Regions from separate parts of the Homo sapiens genome. Here region 2 is linked to region 1. Evidence: fine-mapped expression QTL. A gene starts in region 1. The other region holds a variant in brackets. All regions are shown on one strand. Distances are between the middles of the regions.

Region 1 (5,373 bases):
CCCAGGTTCACGCTCTGGAATGGTTTCTTTTTGCCTCATTCCCTAAGTTTTCTCTCTTCTGCCTCCTGAATGGAGCTCAGGCTAAGGAGAACGGCAGAAAGAGCAAACTCTGATCTGAATCTCTAATTATGACCCCATGTATTACCCATTTGAACATAAGGCCCTAGACGGGCTCCGTGCGATCTGGGGCCTCCCAAGAGAAAACTTCCCCGGGACAGGACGTCTGCCACGCGCAGCTAAACAACTTCTGTTTTTTCCGCCGTGGGGAAAATAAAAGAACCTTACAAATTCTAAGGCGTCATAACCCCTGCAAGAACTTCTAACTGTATGAAGGCCCACGCGAGATTTTGACAATAGATAAATGAGCTGAGGAAATAGGGTCTGGCCAGCGAAGGGAAACACACAGTAGCCCTGGGTGCCTTTCTGGAATGCCCACGCAGGGGTCCGCGTGGACAAGCACTTGCATTCAAATACAGGAAAAGGCTTGGACGGTCGAAATAAATCTCCTTTTAATTTTCTTTTCATCGACTAATAAAAATAATTCCCCAGCACTAAACTCAAATACCGTAACGGGCCACAAAAACACGGAGAATTCATAAAACTCTATCTCTGCAGGTCACCCGCTAATCGCATTATTATTAGCCTCGGGAGCATGGAAATTGAACTGTCACTGCCTAAAGAGAAAATGTAAGCGACAGCTGTCCCTCCTCTGAGTTGGACAGCTTTGTGGCTGAGATCCCCAAGCTCCTGAGCCCCAGACCGTCTCTATCCCAGTGCAGGCCGCTGCCCCCTCCCCGGGCTTGTCAGCGTGTGAAGCGGGGTCTACTCCCCAGCTCTGGCTGTTCAGCAGGAGCACCTTCCAGCATGGTTTTAGAAGTCCGGGCTGGAAAGCTTCTGAAACCGCTAAACCAAGTTGCGAGCGTTGTATGTGCGCGCGCGCACACTCAAGATTCTTCCGACAACAGCTGTTCCCCCGGGCTGTTTTTGCACAGTTGAAATCTTGGCACTTAACACAAAACGTTAAAGTTGGCTTCTCCCCTCCTAGGGTTCTGTTAAAATACAGACATGACATCCCCCCTGCTTTTTACATGTTCCGTGCACATAATATACATGGGTTACTGTAGGATCTGAGACACAAATCAATCGTACCCACACCCTAAATACACAGAGATGTGGGCCCTGAAGAGTGACCCAAGGAGTAAGGGGTCTAACATCCATTCTTGTTTCCGTAAACGCCAAAGGAGTAGAAATATAATTATGTTCCACCATCGAAAAGTTGGTGGGAGAAAGGCAAGGACGAGGTTGAAGGCTAAATGAGACAACTGGTCATTCCCCGAAGACTGAGGTATTGGATTGGAGAACGCCGCGCCAGTCCTCCCGAGTTCTCAGAAGCGAGTCCTAGATCTCGGCTCCCGCCGTTGCCTTCGGCCCGCGCCCCTCCCAATCCCAGGGACCGGCAGCCCTTCATCCACGGACACCCAGAAAGCTGCGCTCTCCACCCAAAAGAAAAAGAAATGCAAACAAACAGGACTCCTTGCTTAGGCTGGCGACGAAAATGCAAGGCTCAGTCCAGCCCCAAAAATTGGTTCCGGTGAATTTAGGGAGGCTCAGGGCATTTGCGCGAAGAAACAGAAACCTATGTTGGGGCAAGGCAGGGCGTCAATGGCAGGGCCTAGCTCCTCACCCGCGACCGGCGACTGGCCCTTCGGCGTCCCCTCTCCGCCCGCCTCCCGCGGTCGGCTGCGACGCACTCACCCGGGTGAGGCTCCAGGCCGTGTGCCGCCGCGTCCTCCGTGTCTCCGAGTGGGCCCGCGGGGCTCAGCGCCTCCATAGACAGGTCCAGCCCCTTCTCCTCCCAGTCTCGCAGTTTCCGTTTTTTATTTGAGCCGATCAAGGCTTCAACGGAGAAGGCATGTGCTCGCGAGCTCAGGGCGACTGCAGATCTTCTCCTTTCACTCATTTTAGCCGCCCACACCCCTGCCTCCGCTTGCCCCCGCTACCGAGGGAGCAGCCGGCGCCCTCAAGCTCTGAGCGCCCACCGGGCCCGGCCCGGGAGAGGCGGAGGCGCGTCGGACGAGGCTGAGACTGCGGCTCGCGGGTCTCTCCACCCTCCCCCTGCGTCCTCCTCCGCCCTCCTCTGCCGGATCCGACCTGCGCCCCTACGCTGGCCCAGCTGCTAGGAACTAGCGCCCCGAGCGCCGCCCGCTCGCTGCATGAGCGCCCGAGTCCTGCTTCCCACCCACCGGGGCAGGCGCTCACAGACTGTGTCCACTGAACTTCATCTTGTTTTTGTTATTATTATTATTCTCTCTCCTCTCTCTCTCTCTCTCTCTCTCCCCTCCCTCTCTTTTTCTCTCCTCCCCCTCTCTCTCTCTTCCTCTCTGCCTTCCCGTCCTCCCTGTGATCCAAACTTCTGGGAAACTTTTTTTTCCGCTAAATTCCTCCCTTCCCGAGGAACAGGGGGCAGGCGGTGCGCTCCTGTCCGAGGGGTGAGGGAGAGGGAGGGGGAGGAAGAAAAAGACTGAGGGGGAAAAAAGCCAGCCCCCAACCAATAGCGAGGAGGGAACAAGAGAAACTCCGAGAGCGCGAACCAATGAGAGGAAGGGAGAGACTGAGGCCCGGGCCAAAGCGCAGCGCCAGTCGTCCCCTGGATGCTCCTGGGCCGACTTTAACCCCTGGCTTCCCGGTTTCCCCATGGGTTACTCCAAGAGGGAGGTAGGACAGTTGAAAGTTGAGGTCTGATCTGCGCCTTTACAAACTCCTGCAAATCCCAAATCCATACGTTTTTCTTCCAGATCTGCTGGTCTCATAGACGCTGCAAGTCCAGAGTCACTTTAGTTGCAGATCTGGAATTTTGGGGCTCTGACAAAATGTTAACCTGTCCAAAATGCCAGAAAACGATTCTGATAATTTCGCGTCAGCCCCTAGGTGCTTTAGAATATTCTGGTTCCTCCTGGATTTCGCCACACAGGTTTTAATGTTCCTACTGAACGTTTTCTAAGCAAATCTGGGTAAGGCAAAAGGAAACAAACAAACAAGCAAACAGAAAGCCCTGTTACTAACCAGGGTCTTGTAACTGAAAATTCAAAGACCGCTTCCTCCTTCCAGCTCTACCTGGTGGAGAAGGAGACACAGGCGCCTTGAGAGCAAGGGGCGGGCGGCGGAGCGCGGGGTTTAGGGCGAGCTCCTCAGGCGTATTCCAGCTGGGCCCCCTCACGCCGCAAATACTCTCTTTCCCTACGGCCCGAACGCTGGGCTGCGCTTCGCCTGTTCCGGGCTCTTGTTGCAGAGAACCTATGGAGAGGTGACAGGCAAGAACAGCTAGGAACTTTAACAGAAGAGAAGGAGCTTTTTCAAAATTCCCTGCAAATCCCGTTACCTCAAGACCATGGCTTTCCCGGCCAGCTGATCTCCCCCCTGGCCGCCCCCTGCCTTTTGCGATCTCTAAGGACTGCATTCAACATGGATTTCTAAGGAATTAAAAAATCCAACGCTCCTGGCCATTCTTAATTCCCACACCTCTTCCCAAGTTACGCCACCGGTCGAGGACGGCAGGAGACCCCCGAGTGCAGAGAAAGCTCAAACCGGCAGCGAAGTCGGTCCTAGCCAAGCTGAAAAAACGTCTCGGATTTCGCGGACAGCGGCCTAGACACAGCCCGATCTTCCAGTCCTAGTGCCCTGGTCGAGACGGTTCTATCCTTTTGCAAAGAAGCCGGAAAGAGCTGGGTCCCGGGGGCGGGGGACAGACTGAGAGGCCAAGCAGGCCAGTCGTGACGACAGCCAGGCCCTTAGAAGTCTCCAAACCTGAAAGTTTAGGTTAGGGGGCCCACAGCCTGTTAAGATTTCTTGTTGTTGTTTTCGCGAGGCCCGGGAGAATCAGCTCTCCCACCTTGCGGCAAGAAAAGATGACTTGTCAGGCCTCTGAAACGCCGAATTCTCTGCCGGACTGCGGAGGGGCCCAGGGAAATCTAGTCTTTATTATTACAGTTGGAAGTGTTCTGGTGCTGAAGGCAACCACAGTGTTGTGAATTCACCTTGGGCCTCTTTGGACAAGAGGCTACTTTTGCCCCCTTCCTTCACCCCCGCCCCAAATTAGGATCCAACCAGGATGTCAGGAAGCTAGCATCCCAGGCGAATGCAAAAAGAACAATGGAAAAGCCACCGGATGAGTGTGATTCAGCCAAGCCTGACCTCCCCGGAGCCTGTGTCTCAGGCTTGGAGGTCCCCAGGGAGCACGAACATGAACTCTGGGGAGCTGGAAGCAGGGTACTGGTCCCCGCCTCCTGCAGCTCTGCCCAGAGGACTTGGGGAGCCCGGATGGAGAGGCGCAGGATCTCCCACTTCAGTCAGCATTTGGCGTTGCTTCCAGGAGTCGTCGCTGAAAGTCAGCGCGCATTCACTGCTACCGGGCTTCAGCAGAGAAGCTGGAGACAAGGCAGACGGGAACCCGCAATTTCCTTCCCCAGCGGCTGGGGCCTCTCTCTCACCTCCCAACTCTGGTGTCGCCCGGCGTTTTCCGCCTGCGGCTGGAGCCTGCCCCTACCAAGCTTGGTGGGGTAGCAATGGGGCCGGCCTCTAGACTTTCCCAGCTCTTTTCTCATCCCCATAGCCGGTATCTCCCATCTCTCTCTGGCAGCCTTTTGCCTTTCACAGTTTCTCACAGGCCTGGTTTGGACTGAGAAGCGGGTACACCATATGCCTCACCCTCTCTGAGACCATGGAATTTTCTCAAAAAGGAGGACTTAGCCTGGGCAACATGGAGAAACCCCATTTCTACAAAAAATACAAAAATTAGCCAGGTGTGGTGGTGTGGGCCTGTAGTCCCAGCTACTCAGGAGGCTGACAGGGGAGGATCACCTGAGCCCAGGAGGTCCAGGCTGAAGTGAGCCGAGATTGCACCACTACACTCCAGACTCGGTGACAGAGTGAGAACCTGTCTTCTCAAAAATAGAAAAAAAGGAAAAAAAAAAAAAAAAGGAGGACTTTTTGGTTATCTAGGAACATAATTGCAAGTCCAGAGGCCCGATTGTTCCTGTGTGTCCAAAGACGCAGCATCTGAGAGGCATACATAGAGGAATGAGCAATGGTTTCAACAGCATGCATCTGCATCCTCTCCGAAGCTTGCACTCCGCAGAGTCAGGAGTCAGCCAGAAGAGTTTCCACACCCCTCCTTCAGATTGCACATAGGCTGCTCCCACCCCCATTCCACAGACACACATATCCTGGAATTGTAGGTTAGGCCACTAAAACCAACCGAACCCAAATGAAAGCAGGATGGTTTTTAACAGTCTTGAAAATAAGGGGTTTCCTCTAAGTAAATGGGAGGAGCAGTGAAAACTCCCGTGACTCTATAGGAGTTAATGTAAGGTTTTT
Region 2 (5,373 bases), 44 kb after region 1:
TGTCAAAGTCGGTTTGAAGCAGGGTTTCAGAGCACCAGTTACAGGACCATTATTATTACCACCTGAAATATTTTTCACCATTTCAACTTCCCACAAAACATACAGAAAAAAAAAAATTAGGTTTCTCTCCAATGTGTCATCTCCATTAGAAAGATTGTGAAGGGCCTATAAACAATAAGTGGAAGGGATGTGAAAATAGATCTAGATTCCATACTTGTTGGCTCTTTTATCAACTTCCTGAGATCACTGGGTGTGATGGATTTTTTTTTTTTTTTTTTGAGACGGAGTCTCGCTCTGTTGCCCAGGCTGGGGTGTAGTGGTTTGATCTCGGCTCACTGCAAGCTCCACCTCCTGGGTTCACACCATTCTTCTGCCTCAGCCTCCCTAGTAGCTGGGACTACAGGCGCCCCCCACCACACTCAGCTAATTTTTTTTTTTTGTATTTTAAGTAGAGACGGGGTTTTCACCATGTTAGCCAGGATGGTCTCCATCTCCTGACCTCGTGATCCGCCCGCCTCGGTCTCCCAAAGTGCTGGGATTACAGGCGTGAGCCACCGTGCCCGGCCGTGATGGATAATTTTATGTGTCAACTTGACTGAGTTAAGGGATATCCAGATAGCTGGTAAAGCATTACTCTGAGCGCGTGTGTGAGGGTGTTTCTGGAAGAGATTGGCCTTTGAATCAGTAGACTCAATAAAGGAGATACGCCCTCATCGATGTGGGCTGACATCCAATCAGTTGAGGGACTGACTAGAAGAAAAAGACAGAGGAAGGGCAAATTTGCTGTCTTCTTGAGCTGGAACTTCACCTCTCCTGCCCTAGGACATCACAGCTCCTGGTTCTCAGGCCTTTAGACTCTGGGACTTACAGTGGCCCCCAGGTTCTCAAGCCTTCAGCCTTGGACTGACAGTTACATCATTGGTTCCCCTGGTTCTCCAGCCTAAGGACTTGGACTGTATCACACCATCATCTCTCTTGGGTCCAGCTTGCACATAGCCTATCATGGAACTTCTCAGCCTTCATAATTGGGTGAGCTAATCCCCATAATAAATTCTCTAATATATAGATATATATCCTATTGGTTTTGTTTCTCTGAAGAATCCTGATTAATACTGATTAACCGGATAAGATTCTCTTAATAATTATGGGCCAAGTTTGGACTTGAACAGTTGGGTCACTTAAAAAAAATAACAACAGGTTGCAAACAAGTCCACCCTCACCAATGCATAGACTTCGGTCCCTGGAAGTTATCACAAGTTATCTGTTTTTCTCCTCTGAGATTCTTTCCATAGTGCCTTAATTTTTTGGAGGAAAGGTATTGCAAGGGGGTAAAAACCACACAAACAGATAAACAGACAATTGGCTTGATAGATCTACCTTTAGTTTTGTCATTTTCCAGTATTCACAATCCTTTCAAAGTTTCCTTTAAAGGGGAAAAAACAGAGGCTTGTAAGAAATATGCTCAAAGAGGTTCTAGGACTTACAGACATCCCATTCCAGTATAAGATACAAAAGGCAAAATGTTTCCTTTACCCATGATCCAGGCTAGCTCCAAGAATCCTAAAAACGATGTTTTAATTTGGAATCTGGGATGGGGCGTTTTGTGGATTAACATGTGTTCTGACACAAGGACTACTCTACTTCCTTAAGAAACATGAGCAAAAATGCTTTGCTCAACAACCTAGTTATGTATGTACAAATGGTGATCATGGTCCTTACTGATAAAAAACTTATAAGCAATTTCTGTTACAAAATCGATCTTGCTAACAGGTCTTGGTGTATAAGTTAGGATTATCATTTTCATTTTCAGGTGTCAGAAATGGAAGTGCAGAAAAGCTAGGTTTCAGGGTGACATTACTTAACTGAGGTAGAGGCAAGATGAGAAGCTGTCAGTCATTGGGAATATCTGATTTGTCAGTCTTCACTGCTATTGTAGACTGGCAGAACCTATTTCAAAGTATTTCTGCAATGAGCGTAGAGGAGAGAACTTGGGACCCGCCTTGGGGATTTTGATGGGGAAATGTGACCACGGTTCTGTGAATCCAGATTTTAAGTTCGCATCCATTGGCTGAATTGATGATATAAAAAACATCATCAGTCGTTCCAA[C/T]ACCCACCTTCAAAATCAGAATGTTTAGAGTCTAAAAAACGCTGCCTTTCAGCATTTTTTTTGTACTGAATAAACAAGCACTATTCTTAAGAATAAGGGGTAAGGGTTTTACTCTCAGATTTGCTTCTCTTATGGAGTGATATCGTACAAGCTAATTGGATTCTCTCAGCCTCACTTTCCTCATGTGTAAAATGACAATAATTCTCCTAATTCATAGGGGGTTGGTGAGACTAAACTGAAATGAATGCAAGAAAGCACTTATTAAGAATATAATTCAGGGACTTGGGCTCTTGTACAATAAATAAATCAGGTCAAAATAATGCAACCTCCTTAGAAGATCATATCCCATATCTCTGAATTAAAAAACAAATTATTGCTGGAACAGTTGGTGTTATCTCTTGGAAAACAAGTTAAGCAGCTTAAATATATTAAATCAGGCACCGTCTCAGTGACAAACAAACTATAAGAATGGACTTGTTTTTATGAGCTCTGAATACAAATTGGCATCTGATCAAATGGCATCTCAAGGATTATACATCTAAGACCTCTATATATTGCTTTATAAAAGGGTTGAAGTAGATAACGTGTGCATCTGTTACAGTAAGTACTCCAGAGAGAAGCACAAATGATACTCCATTTCCCAAATTACTCCTTACTTCAATCACATTTCTGCAGGCCAAGGAGTGTGCCTCAATAATTGGGGATTCAGACAGCTATGCCTTCTTGATTTATTTTTTGTTGTTGTTGTTCACAGCATTTTGTTGATGGGATTTGGAACACTGTCGTATTTCAAAGCTACAAAGCAATATTCATCAAATAAAGCCAATAATCAGCTATACCAAATTAAATGTCCCAAAACTATAACTTTTTCTTTTTAGGAAAGCTGCCGTTATCAGAATGCATGGAGTGCAAGGCACAAAAGCCTTGCTGTGATTCGTTGAAACTTCCTATAGAAAACCCACCAATTTCTTCACCTCCTGGCACACAGTGTATGCTAATTCTTTGGCTTTTGCTGATCCAATTTGTAAAACCTTCTCTAAATGGTCCTTGTCCAGCTTCAGTTTTTCAATTTCACGCTTAATTGGGGCAAACTTCTCAATCACAGCATCTGCCACGGCCAGCTTGTAGCGAGCAGTGTTCATGCCCGCGCTGCGGCGCACCACTTCCTCCACGGAGAGCCCCGTCACCGCGGCATGCACCGCCACTATGTTGGACACGCCAGCGCGGCCAGCCGGGTCATAGGTGACCTCCGAGGTGAAGTCTGTCACAGCCTTGCGGAATTTCTGCACTATCTCCTCTGGGCTGTCTGTTATTCGGACGGTGGCCAGTTTGTCAGGGTCTGATTTCGACATTTTGGCAGAAGGATCACGTAGGGATTTTACCTTCTTCATGGATGCTAGGTTAAAAACACCAACACACACATACCCAAAACAAAAACAAAACAAACAGATCACCAAGATGTACACACAGACAGTTCCCAACTTGCAATGGTTTGAATTATGATTTTTCAACTTTACAGTGGTGCAAATGTGATATCCATTCAGTAGAAACTGTACTTGAAATACCCACACAACCATTCTGTTTTTCACTTTCAGTATAGTATTCAATAAATTACATGAGATATTCAATACTTTATTATAAAATAGGCTTTGTGTTAGATGATTCTGCCCAATTATAGACTAATGTAAGTGTTCTGAGCACGCTGAAGGTGGGCTAGGCTAAGCTGTGATGTTCAGTAGGTTATGTGTGTTAAATGCATTTTTGATTAACAGTGTTTCCAACTTACAATGGCTTTATCAGGATGTAACCCAATTATAAGTCAAGAAGCATCTGTTCATACTTCATAAATTATATACTACTTTATAAATATTATTTTAAATTTTTGGTCTCTTCCATACTTTTAAAATATTTTTAGTTATCCTTTTCAATAATCCAACATCTTTTTCAGGAATCCAACGTAGTCTACTTTCTAGTCCTACACTAGAGAAAACAATGAGGACTCTAGTTACAGATCCTGAAGCCTGTCTACAAGAAAGCTGAGGTTAGTCCCAAGAAAGTTCCAAGCCTATCTATTGTCCAATCCTCTCTTTAGAATATACCCTGATGTAACAATTATAAGTTTCTTACTTACTGAGAATGGACTCGGGCACTGGAAAGAACTCCCCATACTTCTTGTTGAAACCTTGTGCTAGATCCTGAACTAGTTCCATGTGCTGGACTTGATCCTCCCCAACAGGAACGTGTGTGGACCTTTAATAAAAGACAGACAGAAAAACAACAGCAAGGCTCTTTCTTAGAGACAGAAATGATATTGCAAGCAGCTGCATTTCCTGTGAATATTTCACTGTTGGTATTCAACAAATGTTCACCAACTATAGAGGGAATGTTTAGACCTAAGTCTTTATCTATGGATCAGACAAAAGCCAAAGAGATGTTTCTCTACTCTAGTTGTGTTTTTTCCACAGCAGGGGAATACAGCCATCAACACCAGCATGACAGGATCTTGCTGGGAGGGAGGAATGGGATTTTAAATAGCATATGCTCTAGGCACAATTGTGTTTTAAAACTACTCCTCATTCCCTCACCCAGTCAGCACATATTATTCCCAGCCCTGACCAGATGCTCTTTACCTCAGAACTACAGCTCATACTTGAAAGACACCCCACCCCACTCTTCAAATCAAAGGCAGCAGAAAGTTCTTCAGGCAAGAGTTTTTCCTCCCTGTCACATAGGGAGTAATTCAATATTCTTTGGAGTAAGCTTCATTTTCAAGTACATTGCAATCACAGGACAATTAATATGTTGCAGAGAACTTAAAATCTATAAGTACAATGTAGATGGCTATCAAAAACTATGTGGGATGAAAAAAGCAAGTTGGAGAAAACATGAAATACACTGACATTTACGTAAATTTTACAAGTGCCTATGGAAATATATCTGTAATAATAAGTAAAAAAACATACTGGAAGCTCCTCCCCAAATTTGTAATTGTAGCTGCTTCTAGAGAAGGTGGAAAGGAAATAGATCTGAAGAAAAGAACAAAGGAGACTTGAATTTTATCTGTAATATTTCATATTATGAAGAAATGAAGATGTGAAACCAAAAATATCAGAATATAGGGAATGACTTCATCATGAGTTTAATCCCATATGTAAAGTTTGCAGTGTCAGATCATGACATAGTACATCAAATAAGGGAAGAATGAACCATTATAGAGAAGTCTTGATGAGGAAAATTTTATACTGAAGCAATATGGCGGGATTAAA

Alleles and levels. Alleles are on the strand shown, and positions count from the first base shown. SD is a standard deviation of normalised expression in the study named.
As copies of C replace T in region 2, the expression in visceral fat of the gene that starts at base 2,508 in region 1 goes down (small effect, 0.19 SD a copy in GTEx).

The links. PIP is the estimated chance that this variant, and not a neighbour inherited with it, causes the effect. A credible set is the group of variants that fine-mapping cannot tell apart.
Region 2: its variant is the best candidate, but not a certain one, in a credible set for the expression of TBX15 in visceral fat (GTEx, PIP 0.54).

The regions. Positions count from the first base shown.
Region 1 is chr1:118,985,836-118,991,208 of GRCh38, forward strand. TBX15 (T-box transcription factor 15) reads right to left here and starts at 2,508. Exons shown (of 8, transcript NM_001330677.2): 1 at 1,756-2,508. The coding sequence starts at 1,960. RefSeq lists enhancers at 1-55, 1,375-1,908, 1,909-2,441.
Region 2 is chr1:119,029,857-119,035,229 of GRCh38, forward strand. WARS2 (tryptophanyl tRNA synthetase 2, mitochondrial) reads right to left here. Exons shown (of 6, transcript NM_015836.4): 5 at 4,239-4,357; 6 at 1,360-3,503. The coding sequence ends at 3,055. Among named protein-coding and RNA genes, the nearest start is that of WARS2-IT1, 15 kb to the right of the region's middle. The variant C/T (reference allele first, on the strand shown) is at 2,108.